2 separate regions of the Homo sapiens genome follow, and region 2 is linked to region 1. Evidence: fine-mapped expression QTL. Tissue or cell type: whole blood. Region 1 holds a variant in brackets; the other region holds the start of a gene. All regions are shown on one strand. Distances are from middle to middle.

Region 1 (8,183 bases):
ACTCGACAGTATTTTCCAAGGAATTAAAGCCTCAAAACTTGGTTTGAGATTTCAGGGTAGGTTGTTAAAAATCTGTGTGTTGAAATCTAAGATTTAATTCTGCCAAAGTTCACGTTAAGACAGAACAACCTGCTGGAAAGAGATTTGGTCTGAGTGGGGCCTGTGGAAATCTTCTTTCCTGACTTGGTCATTACCTGTGGGACCACTTCCTGAGCTGTGTGGTTTGGGTGATCTCAGATTTTTTCTATCTATAAAGCTATGTGCTTTTTTCTACTCACTGAGTTGTAGAAAGGTATCCGCTCTCATTCCATTCTGAAGCTCTTTGAAAGCTTGTTTTCCTTCTAAGTATCTTCTCTACTAAGGTTGCCAGATATAATAGGGGATGCTGGGCATGGCGGCTCACACCTGTGGTCTCAGCTACTCGGAGGGTGTTGGGGCTGAGGCAGGAGGATCCCTTGAGCTCAAGAGGTTGAGGCAGAGGTTGTGGTGAGCCAAGATCACGCCATTGCACTCCAGCCTGGGCGACAGAGTGAGACTCTGTCTCAAAAAACAAACAAACTTGCATAACTGAAAATTCAGAAGTAGTTGGCCATCTTGTATTTCTGTTTGGTAACTCTGGCAACACTACCCTCTACTCCCCACTTCTAATATAATTTTATAGCATCTCTGGCATACAGTCTATTTGGATCCGACCTAATGGTGCAATATTTTGTTTTCCTCAGAGGAGCCTCTGACCCATGTGAATCTAGGACCATAAACAATTAGAATGCTTGGGAGCAAGAGCTTTATATCTGCATATGGGAACTTCCGGATCCCTGTGGGCAAGTGCAGGGAGGGCCCCTTCTTCCATCTACTGAGCCATTTCCCAGGGGCTCGGGTGTGTATAGGAGGAAGAGGGCGAGTCAGGCATGTTAACAAACATTCTAGGTTATTCTTGGCAGTTTTGGAAACAGTTCTAAGGCTGTGGTTCTCAGACTTTATATCAGAATTGCCTGATTGCTGGGAACAGAGACTGATACAGTAGGTCTGATGGGGTGCCCAAGAGGTTGCATTCCTAAATTCTCATGCAGTTTTCTAATCAGGGAGCAGCTGGAAAGGTATTGTGAGCTTGAATGTACCTGGGAAACTACCTGGGGTCTTGGGAGATGCAAATGCTGGTTCAGAGGTCTGGCCCTCTGACACTCTGATGAGCATTTCTAACAGGCTCTCAGGTGACGGCCGTGCTCCTGGTCTGTGGACCACTTCAGTATGGCTGAAGCACAATAAAAGAGGGCAAATTACTGCTTTCTTTAAAAAGAGTGGCAGCCGGGCACAGTGGCTCACGCCTATAATCCTAGCACTTTGGGAGGCCAAGGCAGGTGGATCACTTGAAGTCAGGAGTTCCAGACCAGCCTGGCCAACATGGTGAAACTCTATCTCTACTAAAAATATAAACATTAGGCCAGGTGTGGTGGCAGGTGCCTGTAATCCCAGCTACTCGGGAGGCTGAGGCAGGAGAATCCCTTGAACCCAGGAGGCGGAGGCTGCAGTGAGCCAAGATCATGCCACTGCACTCCAGCCTGGGTGACAGAGAGAGACTCCCATCTCAAAATTTTTTTTTTTAAATGCAGAGGTTGGACTGCCTACCTATACTCTAATTTCTATTCTGGAGTGATTCTCTGGAGAGGCTAGGTAAAGACTGAAAAGGCATTGTTACGTCCACCTGTCATCTCACTTGGACAAGAATCCAGGAGAAACTATTGAACTGAGGTGACAAAGTTATGATCAATGTGGTGATCTGAGGTGTATTAAAACACTGAGCTCTTTCCCAGTCACAAACACTGCAAGGCAGGTGTTTCTAACAAAGCCTTAAGCTGATGTCGACATGCCCCACAATTCCTTGTCACTCACCAGCACATCCCCGCTGGCTCCATGCTAGAAGCAGGCAAGGAGCTGCAGGTGCGTATACGATGGAGGTGAGGGAGACAGTGCGCATGGAATGAATCAACTCAGTTTGGGAGCAGGGAGAACTTTATTGAGGTTATGAATATATTCTACTTGAAACTGGAAGGATAAGTGGTTATGAATTTGTGGCTTATGGTAACCTTTGTTAAGCATCTTTCTTTTTCTTTTTTTTTTTGGTGAGACACAGATTCACTCTTGTCCCCCAGGCTGGAGTGCAATGGCGTGATCTCGGCTCACTGCATCCTCTGCCTCCCAGGTTCAAGCGATTCTCGTACCTCAGCCTCCCGAGTAGCTGGGATTACAGGCATGTGCCAGCATGCTTGGCTAATTTTGTATTTTTAGTAGAGATGGGGTTTCACCGTGTTGCCAAGGCTGATCTCAAAACTCCTGACCTCAGGTGATCTGCCCGCCTCAGCCTCCCAAAGTGCTGGGATTACAGGCTTGAGCCACTGCGCCCGGCCTTTTTTTTTTTTTTTTTTTTTTTAATTATTGAGACGGAGCCTTGCGCTGTCACCGAGGCTGGAGTGCACTGGCACTGTCTTGGCTCACTGCAACCTCCGCCTCCCGGGTTCAAGCGATTCTCCTGCCTCAGCCTCCCAAGTAGCTGGGATTACAGGCATGTGCCACCATGCCCAGCTAATTTTTGTATTTTTAGTAGAGGTGAGGTTTCAGCATGTTGGCCAGGCTGGTCTTGAACTCCTGACCTTGTCATCCTCCCACCTTGGCCTCCCAAAGTGCTGGGATTACAGGCGTGAGCCACGACGGCCGGCTGTTATGCTCATCATGGCACTTAAGAGATGCTTAACAAACCTTTCCTACAATGTTCCTCAGATTTTCAGAGCTTATTTGATCTAGCATCTGGTTCCTAAATTCTGAGTCACATCAGAAGCCAAACTTGAATGCTTTTGGAAAGAGCTAGCCTCATACCACTTCAGTTGGGAAGGGGAGTACTGAGGTGTACCTTGGCAGGACAGTGGAATGATTGCTGGTTCTTCTAGTTTGCTCTATACCAAGAACTGCTATAACATGTTTCTAAACCAGGGCTATGCAAAGCACTAGAGTTCCTGACCAGCAATGCAAACCAGTGGCATACAAATTCAAAATACTGTATACAGGCCCTGACTCCAGCCCAAACCAAGGCTGGAGGGCATCCAGGGGGATGTGGTTCCCCACGGGGTAGCATCTTGGTTATGTGAGATCACCAAGACACCAAGCCTGTTTTATGAGCTGAATCCTCAGCTTGTTGCTGGATTTGTGGCTGATAAAAAATACAGGCAGGGCCCAGTGGCTCACGCCTGTAATCCCAACACTTTGGGAGGCTGAGGCAGGCAGACCACCTGAGGCCGGGAGTTTGAAACTAGCCTGGCCAACATGGTGAAATCCTGTATGTACTTAAAAATACAAAAATTACCCAGGCATATTGGTGAGTGCCTGTCATCCCAGCTACTCGGAAGGCTGAAGCAGGAGAATCGCTTGAATCTAGGAGGCTGCAGGTTGCAGTGAGCTGAGAAGGCGCCACTGCACTCCAGCCTGGGAGACGGAATCTCACTCTGTCAGTCACAACAACAACAAAAAAATAGAGCACAGCTATGTTTTGAGTTCTTAAGCAAGGGCAAGCTTACCAGGCACTTACAGAGAAGGTTGACGAGGATGACAGGGAACTAATTGGGGGAGGGATGCCATGGTTGAAAACATGGCTGGGGCAGCGAGAAGTTAAGATGAAGTCCCAAGAGTCGCAAGAACATGCAGTTCCAGGACGTGATTCTCTGCAGGGACAAAGAGAGACAGCAGCTACAAGTCTATAGGCAGTGACAAAGGATCTGAGATCCCATCAGAGTAGACTTCAAGTTGGAGAAAACTTTTATTGGCACAGGCATTCCTTGTTAACTTGACAGGGTGAAGCTGTAATTTTTCAAAAACAGTAAAAGCTGGTTTCTCCTAAACTATTTTCCTTGTGGTAGTAGAGATCAGTGGGTCAGAAACAACTCCTGACCACTTGGTTTCCTTTTGAGCCGCGTCATAAGGAGGCAATCTGTAAAACTAGCACAGGTCTCCCGCTGTTCCACTGGCTCACCCACATGATTAGCAGAGTGCACGAAAAAATAAAACTTCTATTAAAGAATCATGCTGAGCACAA[G/C]ATCAGAGAGGTTGTGACATTGCAAACTCGATAGATGCAGGGGGCCTGGGAGACTGGCGTTCTCCAAAGGGCTCCCAACACCGTCTCTCCTCTGATTTCTGTGACAAATGTGGAAAGCTACTTGCTTGGAGGTACTGGGGGAACTGATGGGGGAACTTTCATCCTGTTAGGAACTCCGCTTTCCATTCCTGCGTCTCTGTCTTGCTCCCTGGAGATGGATGGATCACGGAGGGGGCCACAGTCAGCTGGGGCAGCAGGTACTCCCTACGGCACTAGTCTACAGGGGGAAGGACGCTCTGTGCTGGCAGCGGTGGCTCACATGGCCTGTCTGCACTGTAACCACAGGCTGGGATGTAGCCAGGACTTGGTCTCCTTGGAAGACAGGTCTGATGTTTGGCCAATCCAGTCCTTCAGACCCTGTCTGAAACTTGTATCTTACGTGAACTTAAAGAATAAAATGCATTTCTACCCCGATCTCGCCCCCAGGACTGGCACGACAGGCCCACGGCAGATTAGATCTTTTCCCAGTACTGATCGGTGCGTGGAATTCCAGCCACCACTTCTGATTCGATTCCACAGTGATCCTGTCCTCTGAGTATTTTAAAGAAGCCTGGGAATAAAAAGTAAGGTGCTTTTAAAGTGTGACAAGGGTCAACCAATATAGTCAGACTCATCCTTAAAAGACCTTAAGTCACTCATCCCTGGCCACTCCTGCTGTTGGCCCACTAGCACAGTCCTCAACACCACAAGGCTTCTGGAGCCGTGGGGCACACCTCCACGGGCAAGCCCCCTGCCCGGTCACCCTTCCCATCACAGGATCTGGCGCGATGCTGTGGGAACTGTTGCAGGCGTTGGCTCTGAAGCTGCTCAGAGTCTGCCCTCACAGCAAAAGGGAACTCCTGACTGCCTGGCACTTAGGAGGAGCTCACAGCCTGGCCGTAGGTCCAGGGTTTAAGGCTGTGCGGTGGGTAGAACAGAGAAAGCCGAGATGGCCACGGGGTGTGGCTCACAATTCACTGTTCTTGGCAGGAAGGGGGCAGCCACTCACCATTGTCACCCCAGTCAGTGTTCCAGGAGTTGGCAACCAGCCAGTAGGGTGTGCCATTCTCCACTCCCCAGCCCAGGATGCGGATGGCATGGCCACCCATCATCTCTCCGGTGACGTGTTGGTACACTCCTGAAAAGGGAAGAACTGGCTGAGACCGAGACCGGGCCACTGTCCCACGCCCCACAGCACCCCCCACACTCAGCTGGTCATGCTCCGGGAAGGAGAAACAGCTTCCAGAGGGAACCTGCTGCTCCACCAGGAGGCTCCAGGGGGGGTCCCACAATACTGGGGAATTAAATATATTTTTGAAGGCCCAACACACTCAAAGTTGTTGAGTAAATATTGAAATAGATTCCTACAAAATGTGCTTGTTGGCTTTAAAAATAGAATTTCTAATACATTCTAATTGATAAAACATTTAATGCTAGATGACTGATTCATCTGTTCTTTATACTGGGATTCCATGTAAGTAAGGGTTTGTCAAAAGCGTTACACGGCTTAAAGAGTTTTAATAGCTGCTCCAGGTACACCCTGAAGAGGTGAGGGAGGAGAAGGGAGGACTGGTGGCAGCTAATGCTAGCTGATGGGAAAGATACTGGCTAAGGGGCTCAGGGCTGCCCAACCAGGCTCTCGGGTGGGGAAATCACTGTCAAAGTGGAAATGCATCTTTTAATAATAAGGGCGAGGACTATGCTAAGAAGTGCCATCTTCACAGAAACTTTTTCTTGCCAGAATCATCTTCCTTTGTCAAACTGTTGTTTTACAAGTTTCCAATCTAGCAAAATATTAATGGGATAGATGCAGTCAGCAAAGACTGTTCATCTGGAGCAAGGGATTTCTAAGACAGGACTTGGGGATGGGGACTGTCCAGATTCCTTGGTTGGAGTCCCTATGGCACTACCCAGGGCAAGGTCCTCCCTGTGTGTTCATCCACTGGTGTGAGGCACGATCTAGGCCTTTGCAAAGAGAAAGATGAAGAAAATGTGTCAGCCAGTGCAAACACGAACGGCCTGCCATTATAACAGAAACATGCTGGTAAAGCAATGCAAAGCCAGGAAGGCGAGGGCAGGCGTGGCCAGCCACCAGGGAGGGGGGCGTTCCCACAGAGAACATGTATGAGCTGGACGCTAATGGATGGGAAGGAACTAGCCCAGAGGCTCTGGGAGAGGCCTCTGGAATTGTGTGTGTTGGCACAACACCTGGACAAAGACAGTCAGGTGCCAGGCTGGTCCACAGAGGAGTGAGCCTATATGGAAGGCCCCACACAGCCCTCTTCCCCAGCCCCTCACCTGCCTGCCCAATCCAGCCCTATTGGTCAACATGAACCATCCTGGCACCCAGGCTCCCCTCCCGACCCCCACCCTCTATTGCCATCAGCCATCAGCACGCACCTGACTTGTAGAGCAGGAAGTCCGAATACACAGAGAAAGCTCCCTCCACGGGGCCGTTTTTGTAGATCTCGGCCATGATGTCCTTCTCGCTATTGGAGACGCTGTAGGAATTGTATCCTGGAAAATGAACCGAGCTCGGGGTTGGGGAGGGCAGTGACCGTGCCTCGTGGCACGCCACGGTCAGCCAGTCACTGATTTCTGGTGGCCTCCAGGGGAAGACTGCATCTAAGGGGACTTGCCCTGCCAGGGGAGCTCAAGGAAGGCTCCCCTGAAGAACTAAGGACAGGGCTGGGGCTGGAAGCTCAGAAATGGGAGAACGGAGCAATGAGCACGAGGCCCCGGAAGAGGCCAGGATACCTCAAGACTCCAGGACACGCCACTCCCTTGTAAAAGGAGGGCTTTGGTCCCTTCCAGTTTGGAAGGGCTGAGGCTGAGTTCAGGGTGGAACAGGCAGAAAGTGGAGAGTGTGCTGCTTCTCCTGGCAAGAGGGCATCACTCCCCCTCCTCTATCCTAGAGTTCCGGGACCCCAAGGCTCCTCAGCCCTGACCTCTTCGCTGCAGCGTGAGGAGGGATGCAGCAGCTCCCCAGCCTCCACGTGCGCCGTGGCCAGGCCCCAGGCCCCTTACCGTAGTGCTTGTCCTGTTTGTAGGTCGGGCTGTAGCCAGGCTCACAGATCTTGCTACACTTGGGGGTATCTCCCTCCCCCGTGCATGGGGGCCGGGAGCCGTTGACGTGGTGCTCACAGGGAGGGATGGAGTACGGTCTGCACCCTGATGGGACGCGGGAGAAAGCGGAGTCAACCTACAGCCCCCACGGAGAAGACCTGGGGCAAGGCAAGCCTCGTGCCTGCAGCATGGACGCCAGGCAGGTCCTGCCAGAGGCCTGTGCACCTGGCTAGCACCTCTCAGCAGCCCCTCTGTCTCAACCCCCAGTTTATAAAGGCAAATAAAGCCATGATGGTTAATTGCTCAAACAATCCATCTGGCCAGAAAGTGGCCAAGGGGACACACTTACCTACATGGGATTCATAGAGGCCACCAGAAACCAGGCCTTTTCTTGTCCAGAAGTTCCAAGCTTCAGCAGGATAGCCACCATTACAGCTGAAAAGACAGCCTCTAATGAAAACCTCTGAGAGAAGCACCACCAGCTCTCCAGACCACTGTGTGCTACCCAAGTGCCCGAGGCCACTCGTGGACCCACCCCCAGCTGCAGCAAGTGGTGCGAGCAGACCTCCCAGACCCCAAACCCTCCAAGGGACGCTCCCTAGATAAGCACAGCTTGCAGGGAATAACCGCCAGCCCCACCCCTGCCCACAAAGATCCGGGAGAAGACAGGAGGCTCTCCTGTTCATGTCCATACCAGACCAGGCTACGAGTGCCCTTCCGGGTAGAACACTGATTCTCAACTGAGCAGACGCTAAACTTCCCTAAGGTACTTAAAAACACCACCAGTTCTCTGAAATGAGAATCGCCAGTGATTCCCATTTAACTAGTTAGGGGAGAAGCCCATGCATTTTTTTAAGCCCTCAGGCATTTCGGATCTGCAGCCGCCAGTGAACACCGCTACTGCGGAACCAAGGCGAGGCTGCAGGCAGCTGGAGCAGAAAGTTCTGTGCCACCACCTTGTTGTTAAGGTGGAGCCATCCCCGCTAACTACACATAA
Region 2 (8,172 bases), 25 kb after region 1:
TTCTCAGGCAGCCTGGGACCAGACGTAGAGACTGCTGCCTGCCACCCTGATATCCCAGAGGCACAGCACATCTGTACATGCCTCCCCTAGACTCAACTGCCTGTCACCCCAACCATCTCCCTTTACATGGACCATGTGGAAGTGCCCAGTAAATATCACTCAACCGCACATGTTTCCAATAATTTCCTTAGGCCAGACCATTGAAAAGAGGCAGCAGACTGGGCGCAGTGGCTCATACCTGTAATCCCAGCGCTTTGGGAGGCCGAGGTGGGCGGATCACGAGGTCAGGAGTTCGAGACCAGCCTGGCCAACGTGGCAAAACCCCCACATTGGGATTTTTTTACATTGGATTTTTTTAGGAGAGACAAAAAATCTCTACTAAAAATAAAAAAATTAGCTGAGTGTGGAGGCACATGCCTGTAATCGCAGCTAGTTGAGAGACTGAGGCAGGAGAATGGCTTGAACACAGGAAGCGGAGTTGCAGTGAGCTGAGATCTTGCCACTGCACTCCAGCCTGGGTGAGAGAGTCAGACTCCACCTCAAAAAAAAAAAGGAGAGAGAGAAAAGAAGAATCGACATACCTGTAACTCCTCCCTCTCAATGTTTCAGTCCATATCTCGAAAGGACGGTATGTTACTCTACACAACCACAACTCATTACCAGATTTAAGAAAATTACCCCTCCACCGCGCGGTGGCTCATGCCTGTAATCCTACCACTTTGGGAGGCTGAGGCGGATCACTTGAGATCAGGAGTTCGAAAACCAGCCTGGCTAACATGGTGAAAGCCCGTCTCTACTAAAAATACAAAAAAAAAAAAAAAAGCCAGGTGTGGTGATGGGCACTGGCAATCCCAGCTACTTGGGAGGGAGGCTGAGACAGGAGAATTGCTTCAACATGAGAGGCGGAGGTGGCAGTGAACCGAGATCGCACCACTGCACTCCAGCCTGAGCGATAGAGGGAGTGTGTCTCAAAAAAAAAAAAAAAAGAAAGAAAAAGAAATTAAGAAAGAAAAGAAAATCACTGACAGACATCCCAAGGCACCCCTGAAACGTGACCTCCCTTCAATTCACTTCCCAATCCAACCAAGAGCAACAGAAAATATCTGTTACCCCTAAAATGGGTGCAACTTCTCTTCCAACTCCCAGGTCCAGCAGCTGGGGAAAGAAAAGAACCTGCCTACAAAAAGAGCCTCCCCAGTCTGCTAAATCAGCACCACATGGGCAGTTTCAACCTGGAACCAAAGGGCCACCACCCCTCACCGCCTAACCAGTTGGAAACAGGGCTGTCCTGAGCCAACACCCAGGAGAGCTGTGCCAGGGCCGTGTCTGGCCTGCGTTGCCACCTGGGGAGCAAGGGACCTGTGCCTTTCCACCAGGGGGTACCCCCAGCTAGAGGACAAATGACCAAAGACGAAGGGAAGCCTCTGTTCTCCAGGAGACGTTTGACTCTGTCTTTGGGAAAGCTACACAGGGTGGGCGGCCCAGCCCCTTTCTCCAGGAGCTGGCGGGTTCTAAGTCACCAGCACCAGAGCCAACAAGAAACAGTTCTTGGCCAGGCACCGTGACTCACCGGGAGGCCGAGACAGGCGGATCACCTGAGGTCAGGAGGTCAAGATCTGCCTGGTCAACATGGTGAAACCCCATCTCTACTAAAAATACAAAAATTAGCTGGGCGTGGTGGCGGGCACCTGTAATCCCAGCTACTCGGGAGGCTGAGGCAGGAGAATAGCTTGAATTTGGGAGGCGGAAGTTGTAGTGAGCCGAGATCGCGCCACTGTGCTCCAGCCTGAGAGACAGAGCCAGCCAACGCCCTCTTAGGCCTCTTCGCCTTACGTTCCTGAACGTTTGGATTCAAAGAGAGTGCATCTCAGCTATCCTCTCCTCCGGCAGCAGGCAGTGGGAATGTTTTTCCAGGCTACAAAAAGGTGCCAGGTCTGCATTTGAACCCCACAGCGTCACTTCTCCAGTGGGTTTGGGGGGTCTCTCGTCCGTTAGGAGGAGGAGTGTGGGGCCTGCGCTAGGGTCCTTTTCTTTGCCAGCCTGCTGGCTTTCTCAGCGCCTGGGAAGGGGGTGACAGAGGCCCACCAGGAAGCCAAGTGCAATTCACTTCCACCTGGGTCGCCCACCCCAGCCTGCCTGCAACGCCCCACACCCAGCACCCACTGCTCCCCAGAGGCCAACTCCCCCCGGCCTCCAGGGCTACTAACCGAGGGGGAGGTGGCGCCCCAGGGACTCTGCCCGGCCTCCCTTTACTGGAGTCCAGGAGCAGGGTGCGCCCCCGGCCTTCTCCCCACCGGCATCCAATCGCCCATTCGCCTCTTGGTTTCGCTGTCTGGTTTCTCTTCCTGTTTATGGATTTAACACCGTGCGGCTTCCTCCCCAGCCCACCCAGTGCCAGATTCCTGTTCTTCAACAGGACCTGTCTTCTGGGGTCCCAGGAATTGCGTGGGATCTTGCGCAGAAAGTTGGCCAGGCAAATCCTTCGCAATGAGGGGGAAATAAACCGAAAATAGATGCCGGCAGATGCGATTATGTCGGCAGTTTGGCCCGGAGACACCGAGGCCCAGGCGCTGGGAGCGCGGTCCCAGGCAGCAGTCTCCGGACCCGGCCGAGCTCTTCCTCGCAGGCGCCTCCCTCGGCGGTCCTGGCCGCGTCCCCGCTCCGAGGGCCGGGGTCCGGCGCACAGCCCGGGGAGGGGAGCGGAGGGCAGAGGGCTGGCGGGCGGAGCTGTTTTCTGCTTTTCTCGCCGACGCTTCGGAGCGCGCGGACTCCCACCCCAGCCCGCCCGTCAGGGACAGTCCCGAGGGTCCCGGCTCCCCGCCGGCCCCCAGGGACGCCGCGGGGCCGCGCCTGGGCCCGACTGAGGGCGCAGAGGAACCCGTCTCGGCGGCCGGGTAGCACCGTCCCCGCCAAGGTCACTTACGCTGCGGTGGCCCCGGGTCCCCAGCACTCACCCAGCGCTGCAGCCGAGAGCCTGCAGCCCAGCCTGCGCGCAGCGGAGCGGTTGGCGTTGCCGGAGCGGTTGCCGGAGCCCTGCAGCCGCCGTAGCCTGGGCCAGCCCCGGCCCTAAGTACCCTCCCGGCCCCGCCCCACGTGACCACCGCGCAGCCCCGCCCGGGCCCTCCCGCCGCCCGCGCACGGTGCTTCCCAGCCCCCACCCCCTCCCGCCACCTTCCGCCGCCCGCGCTCCCCGCTTCCCGGCCCCGCACACCCCCCGCCCCCTTCCGCTCGGGGTCCGGGGCCACCGCCGGGGGCGGGCGGGGGCCTGAGCGCGCGGGCTGGGGAAGAAGGGCTTGGAGCCCTGCGGGCCCTGGGTGGCGAAACGCTGCGAATTGGGGCCAGGGGATGGGGAAAAAGCCCCTAAAGGTGGTCCCAAGGCCCCCACCCCGCCTAGAAAAGTCCCCCCGCCTCGCGGGACCGCCTCCGCCAGAACCCGCGCCTGGGATCCCTGCCTGCCGAGTTGGCGGGGGTGGGGTGGTGGAGAGGGCGCCGTCGCTTATTTCATTCATTCAGAAGCCGCTGCAGAGGCTGGGGGTGGCGAGGCTGTGGACCCCACAGAACAGCCTTTAGAAGGGCCACTTTGTTGTTCAGAGAACGTACCCACAAAACACTACAGCTACGTACAAATAGAAAAGAGTGGCTGTCACTGCGAAGGAACCTAGGAGCTGCGTCAGGATTTCTAAGAGGAGAAGGACCTTGGGGGCGGAAATCGGTTTGGCACAGGAGTACCCGGAGACCTGCTCCGAGAGGACGGACAAAGTGCACATTTACTTGGGGTTTATTACCGGGAGGCCCTGGAAGGGAGATGCAGGGGTTGGCTCAAGACTCACCCTCCTCCAGACACTCCCCAAACAGCTTTAATCCTTAAGACAAACCTGCAAAGCAGGCATGACCCCAGTTGTATTCAAGAGGCTCAGAGGGGCTGGGTTCGGTGGCTCACGCCTGTAATCCCAGCATTTTGGGAGGCCGAGGCCGGTGAGTCACCTGAGGTCGGGAGTTCGAGACCATCCTGACCAACATGGAGAAACCCCGTCTCTACTAAAAATACAAAACTAGCCGGGCGTGGTGGCGCGTGTCAGTAATCCCAGCTACTCGGGAGACTGAAGCAGGAGAATCGCTTGAACCCGGGAGGCGGAGGTTGCGGTGACCAGAGATCGCACTATTGCACTCCAGCCTAGGCAACAAGAGTGAAACTCTGTATTAAAAAAAAAAAAAAGGCTCAGAAGAATCGTATTTTATCCAGGCTGTGGCGACAGTAAGAAGGCAGTAGCCGGGTGCAGTGGCTCACGCCTGTAATCCCAGCACTTTGGGAGGCCGAGGCGGGCGGATCACGAGGTCAGGAGATCAAGATTATCCTGGCTAACACGGTGAAACCCCGTCTCTAGTAAAAATACAAAAAATTAGCCGGGCGTGGTGGCGGGCGCCTGTAGTCCCAGCTACTCGGGAGGCGGAGGCAGGAGAATGGCGTGAACCCGTGAGCTGAGATCGTGCCACTGCACTCCAGCCTGGGCGAAAAGCGAGACTCCGCCTCAAAAAAAAAAAAAAAAAAAAAAAAAAAGGCAGTAGGACTGCATGGGACCTGGTTCCCTGCAGCCTGGTCGTCAGCTGTCACACAGCCCTGAGCCTGTCTTCAGAGACATGCCTGTACTCCCGCCTGGTTAGTAACAAACTAAGGATAGGAGTGGAAGGAAAAAATAATCTCTGGAGCCCAAACATGGTCACTAAGCCCCCAGCAGAGTGGGATACCCGAGGAACTGAGGACCAGGAGGCTGGAGGTCAAGGTGGTCCCAACTGCCTGCTCACCCTAGTCATATCCTGACAGCCATGGACTCTGGACTCCAAATCATTTCAGACCTCTATAAGGAGCTCATAAGATGGCCAAAATGGGGAGGACACAGCCAGAACCAGGATAACTCTCCCCTCTCTCATCCTTAGAGTGTGACAGAAGGTATGCAGAGCAGAGTGCTTGACATGCGTTATGGCTATTTGATGGAATTTTCCATCAGTGTCATTATAGAAATCACTTTTGAGAGGTAAAAATCACTTTTGAAACAAAAGAAACAGGCTAGGCGCGGTGGTTCACCACTGTAATCCTAGCACTTTGGGAGGCTGAGGCAGGCAGATCACCTGAGGTCGGGAGTTCCAGACCAGCCTGGCCCAAATGGTGAAACCCAGTCTCTACTAAAAATACAAAAATTAGCTGGGCGTGGTGGTTCACGCGCCTGTAATCCCAGCTACTTGAGAGGCTGAGGCAGGAGAATCGCTTGAGCCCGGGAGGTGGAGGTTGCGGTGAGCCAAAATCACGCCATTGCACTCCAACCCGGGCAAGATTCCATCTCAAAAGAAAAGAAAAGAAAAAAAGAAATAGGCCAGGCGCAGTGGCTCACGCCTGTAATCCCAGCACTTTGGGAGGCCAAGGCAGGCGGATCACGACGTTGGAAGTTCAAGACCAGCCTGGCCAACATGGTGAAACCCCGTCTCTACTAAAAATACAAAAATTAGCTGGGTGTGGCATTGCGGGCCTGTAATCCCAGCTACTCGAGCGCTGAGGCAGGAGGATCCCTTGAACCAGGGAGTCAGAGGTTGTAGTGAGCCGAGATCACGCCATTGCACTCCAACATGGGCAAGACTCCTCAAAAGACAAGAAAAGAAATATATTACTACCAGAGTAGAATTCGTCCCTTCCTGGAACATCCAGGAAAGCTTCATGGAGAAAGGAACATACAGCATATTTACTTGTATATGTTCCTTCCTGCCCTCACTGGATCTTAAGCCCCACCCAGGCAAGCATTTTTACCTGCGGTGTTCCCCTGCTTCATCCCAGCTCATTGCAGGGTGTCTGGCCCATAGCAGAGGATAGAGAAATGTGAGTTGAGTGGATGCATAATGAATGAAGTAGGCCTTGAAGTTGAGGAGAATTTTGGCTTAACCTGCTAGATTTGGGGGTCAGGGTTCAGGGCCTGGGGAACAGCTCTCAGAACTTACAGAGAGGCCTTGACTCACGTGTGTAAAAGCTGTTTGCTTGTTGAACATCCGTAAAAGAGGCCTAAGTTAACACCTGAAAGAGGTGAAAACATACGTCCTCACAAAAATCCGCCGGGCACAGTGGGCTCACGCCTGTAATCCCAGCACTTTGGGAGGCAGAGGTGGGTGGATTACTTAAGCCTAGGAGTTCAAGACCAGCCTGGGGAACATAGTGAGACCCCAACTCTAAAACAAAAGTTAATAACGTATGTATAAACTTACACCAGATGTTTATAGCAGCATTATTTACAGTAACCAAAAGGTGAAAACAACTCAAATGTCCATCCATTAAAAACCATTGCACGAATAAACAAACTGTCATAAATCCACCAAATGGAGTTTTATTCAGTCGTAAAAAGGAATGAAGTAGTCACACATGCTACAACATCGATAAACCTTGAAAACGTTTACTAAGTAAAATCAGCCAGGTCCAAAGGACTCAGTATTGTATGATTCCGTGAAATCCACATGGGAGGTTAGGTAGGTGACAGCTAAAGGGTGTGGGGTTTCTCTGGGGGCTAATATGAATTTTTTTTTTTTGCCGAGACAGAGTCTCGCTCTGTCGCCCAGGCTGGAGTGCAGTGGTGCGATATCGCCTCACTGCAACCTCCGCCTCCCGAGTTCAAGCAATTCTGCCTCAGCCTCCTGAGTAGCTGGGGTTACAGGCACCCGCCACCACACTCCCCTAATTTTTGTATTTTTAGTAGAGACAGGGTTTCACCATGTTGGCCAGGCTGGTCTCGAACTCCTGACCTCGTGATCCACCTGCCTCGGCCCCCCAAAGTGCTGGGATTACAGGCGTGAGCCACAGGGCCCAGCCTAATTTTGTATTTTTTGTAGAGACGGTGTTTTCCCATGTTGCCCAGGCTGATCTCAAGCTCTTGAGCTCAAATGATCCTGCTGTCTCCGCCTCTCAAAGTGCTAGGATTACAGGTGTGAGCCACCTCGCCCAGCCTGATTTAACTTTTTAATTTTTAAAAATTATCCTTGAATACGCTACAGTGCCCAACTATTCAGTGTTGAAATGAACTGGATTTCTTATTTGGCTGTGATTGTTTCCAGTATTTTCAGAAATATGTCTCCATTCCTATCTAAACTCTAAGTTGGTTGGTGTAGGGTGCTGTCTTATTCATTTCTATTTCTCCTTCCTCTCTTCTCAAAGGACTTTCGTGCCCTTTACCCCTCCTTCCAGCAGGGAGGTATGAGCCGTGCCTCTGGGCTCCTTCTTCTTCCTCCCGACAGCTCCCTTTCTGTGGTGTGACTGTCATCAGAGGGAGGGAAATTACAGTGCCTTGGCTTCAGAGAACTAAGTTTCTGGTTCTAGCCTTATGAGGGCTGACCACATTGTTTTTTTTTTTTTTCTATTGGCTTCCAGAAGGATTCCTCTTTATTCTCCTACAGTGTCTCCTTTGTGGCTTATCCTACTGCGAGAGCACTTGTTTAACTGCGAGCAAAAGAGATGGCTGCTCCTCTAATACCGGTGGGGGCCTCGACTTTCACATGAACTCCCTCGGAAGGGAAGCCATGTCTGCAGCCAGGGTCTCAGCAGATGTCCACAGCCCCCAAAGCTTTGCCTCCAGAGGCCACCACTTCCCACCATTTCTGTTTCTGGTGGGGCCCCTTCAATTCTAACTATGGCCTCCCCACCACAGAAGAGCAGGGTTTACTCACTTGTCCTCTTCCATGAAGAGCAAATGTATTATCTCACTTGGGGTTTCAGTTGCCCTTGTAGTTTTATTTATTTTTATTTTTCATTTATTTAATTAAAAAAAAAGTTTGAGACAGGGTCTCGCTCTGTCACCCAGGCTGGAGTGCAGTGGCAGGATCTTGGCTCACGGCAACCTTCACCTCCCGGGCTCAAGCAATCCTCCCACCTCAGCCTCTGGACTACCTGGGATCACAGACGCATACAACCATGCCTGGCTGTTGTTTTTTATTTTATTTTTACAGATACTGGGTCTTGCCATGTTGTCCAGGTTGGACTCAAATTCCTGGGCTCAAGCAGTGTGCCCGCCTTGCCCTCCCAAAATGCTGGGATTACAGGCATGAGCCACCACACCCAGACCTTGAATACAGTCACATTCTGAGGTACTAGGGGTTAGGGTTTCAACATACAAACTTTTGGGGGCCTAATTCAGCCCATAATAC

Evidence for each region. PIP is the estimated chance that this variant, and not a neighbour inherited with it, causes the effect.
Region 2: CTSB starts here. The variant in region 1 is fine-mapped to the expression of CTSB in whole blood (TOPMed, PIP above 0.99). The same link has a PIP of 0.9 or more in cerebellar hemisphere, cerebellum, cerebral cortex and prefrontal cortex.

Annotation. Positions count from the first base shown.
Region 1 is chr8:11,840,532-11,848,714 of GRCh38, forward strand. CTSB (cathepsin B) reads right to left here. Exons shown (of 10, transcript NM_001908.5): 6 at 7,536-7,621; 7 at 7,148-7,291; 8 at 6,521-6,637; 9 at 5,130-5,258; 10 at 1,993-4,691. The coding sequence ends at 4,594. Among named protein-coding and RNA genes, the nearest start is that of CTSB, 23 kb to the right of the region's middle. RefSeq lists an enhancer at 7,599-8,183. The variant G/C (reference allele first, on the strand shown) is at 4,082.
Region 2 is chr8:11,865,047-11,873,218 of GRCh38, forward strand. CTSB (cathepsin B) reads right to left here and starts at 3,041. Exons shown (of 10, transcript NM_001908.5): 1 at 2,955-3,041. RefSeq lists an enhancer at 2,305-2,514 and silencers at 2,605-2,934, 3,075-3,194.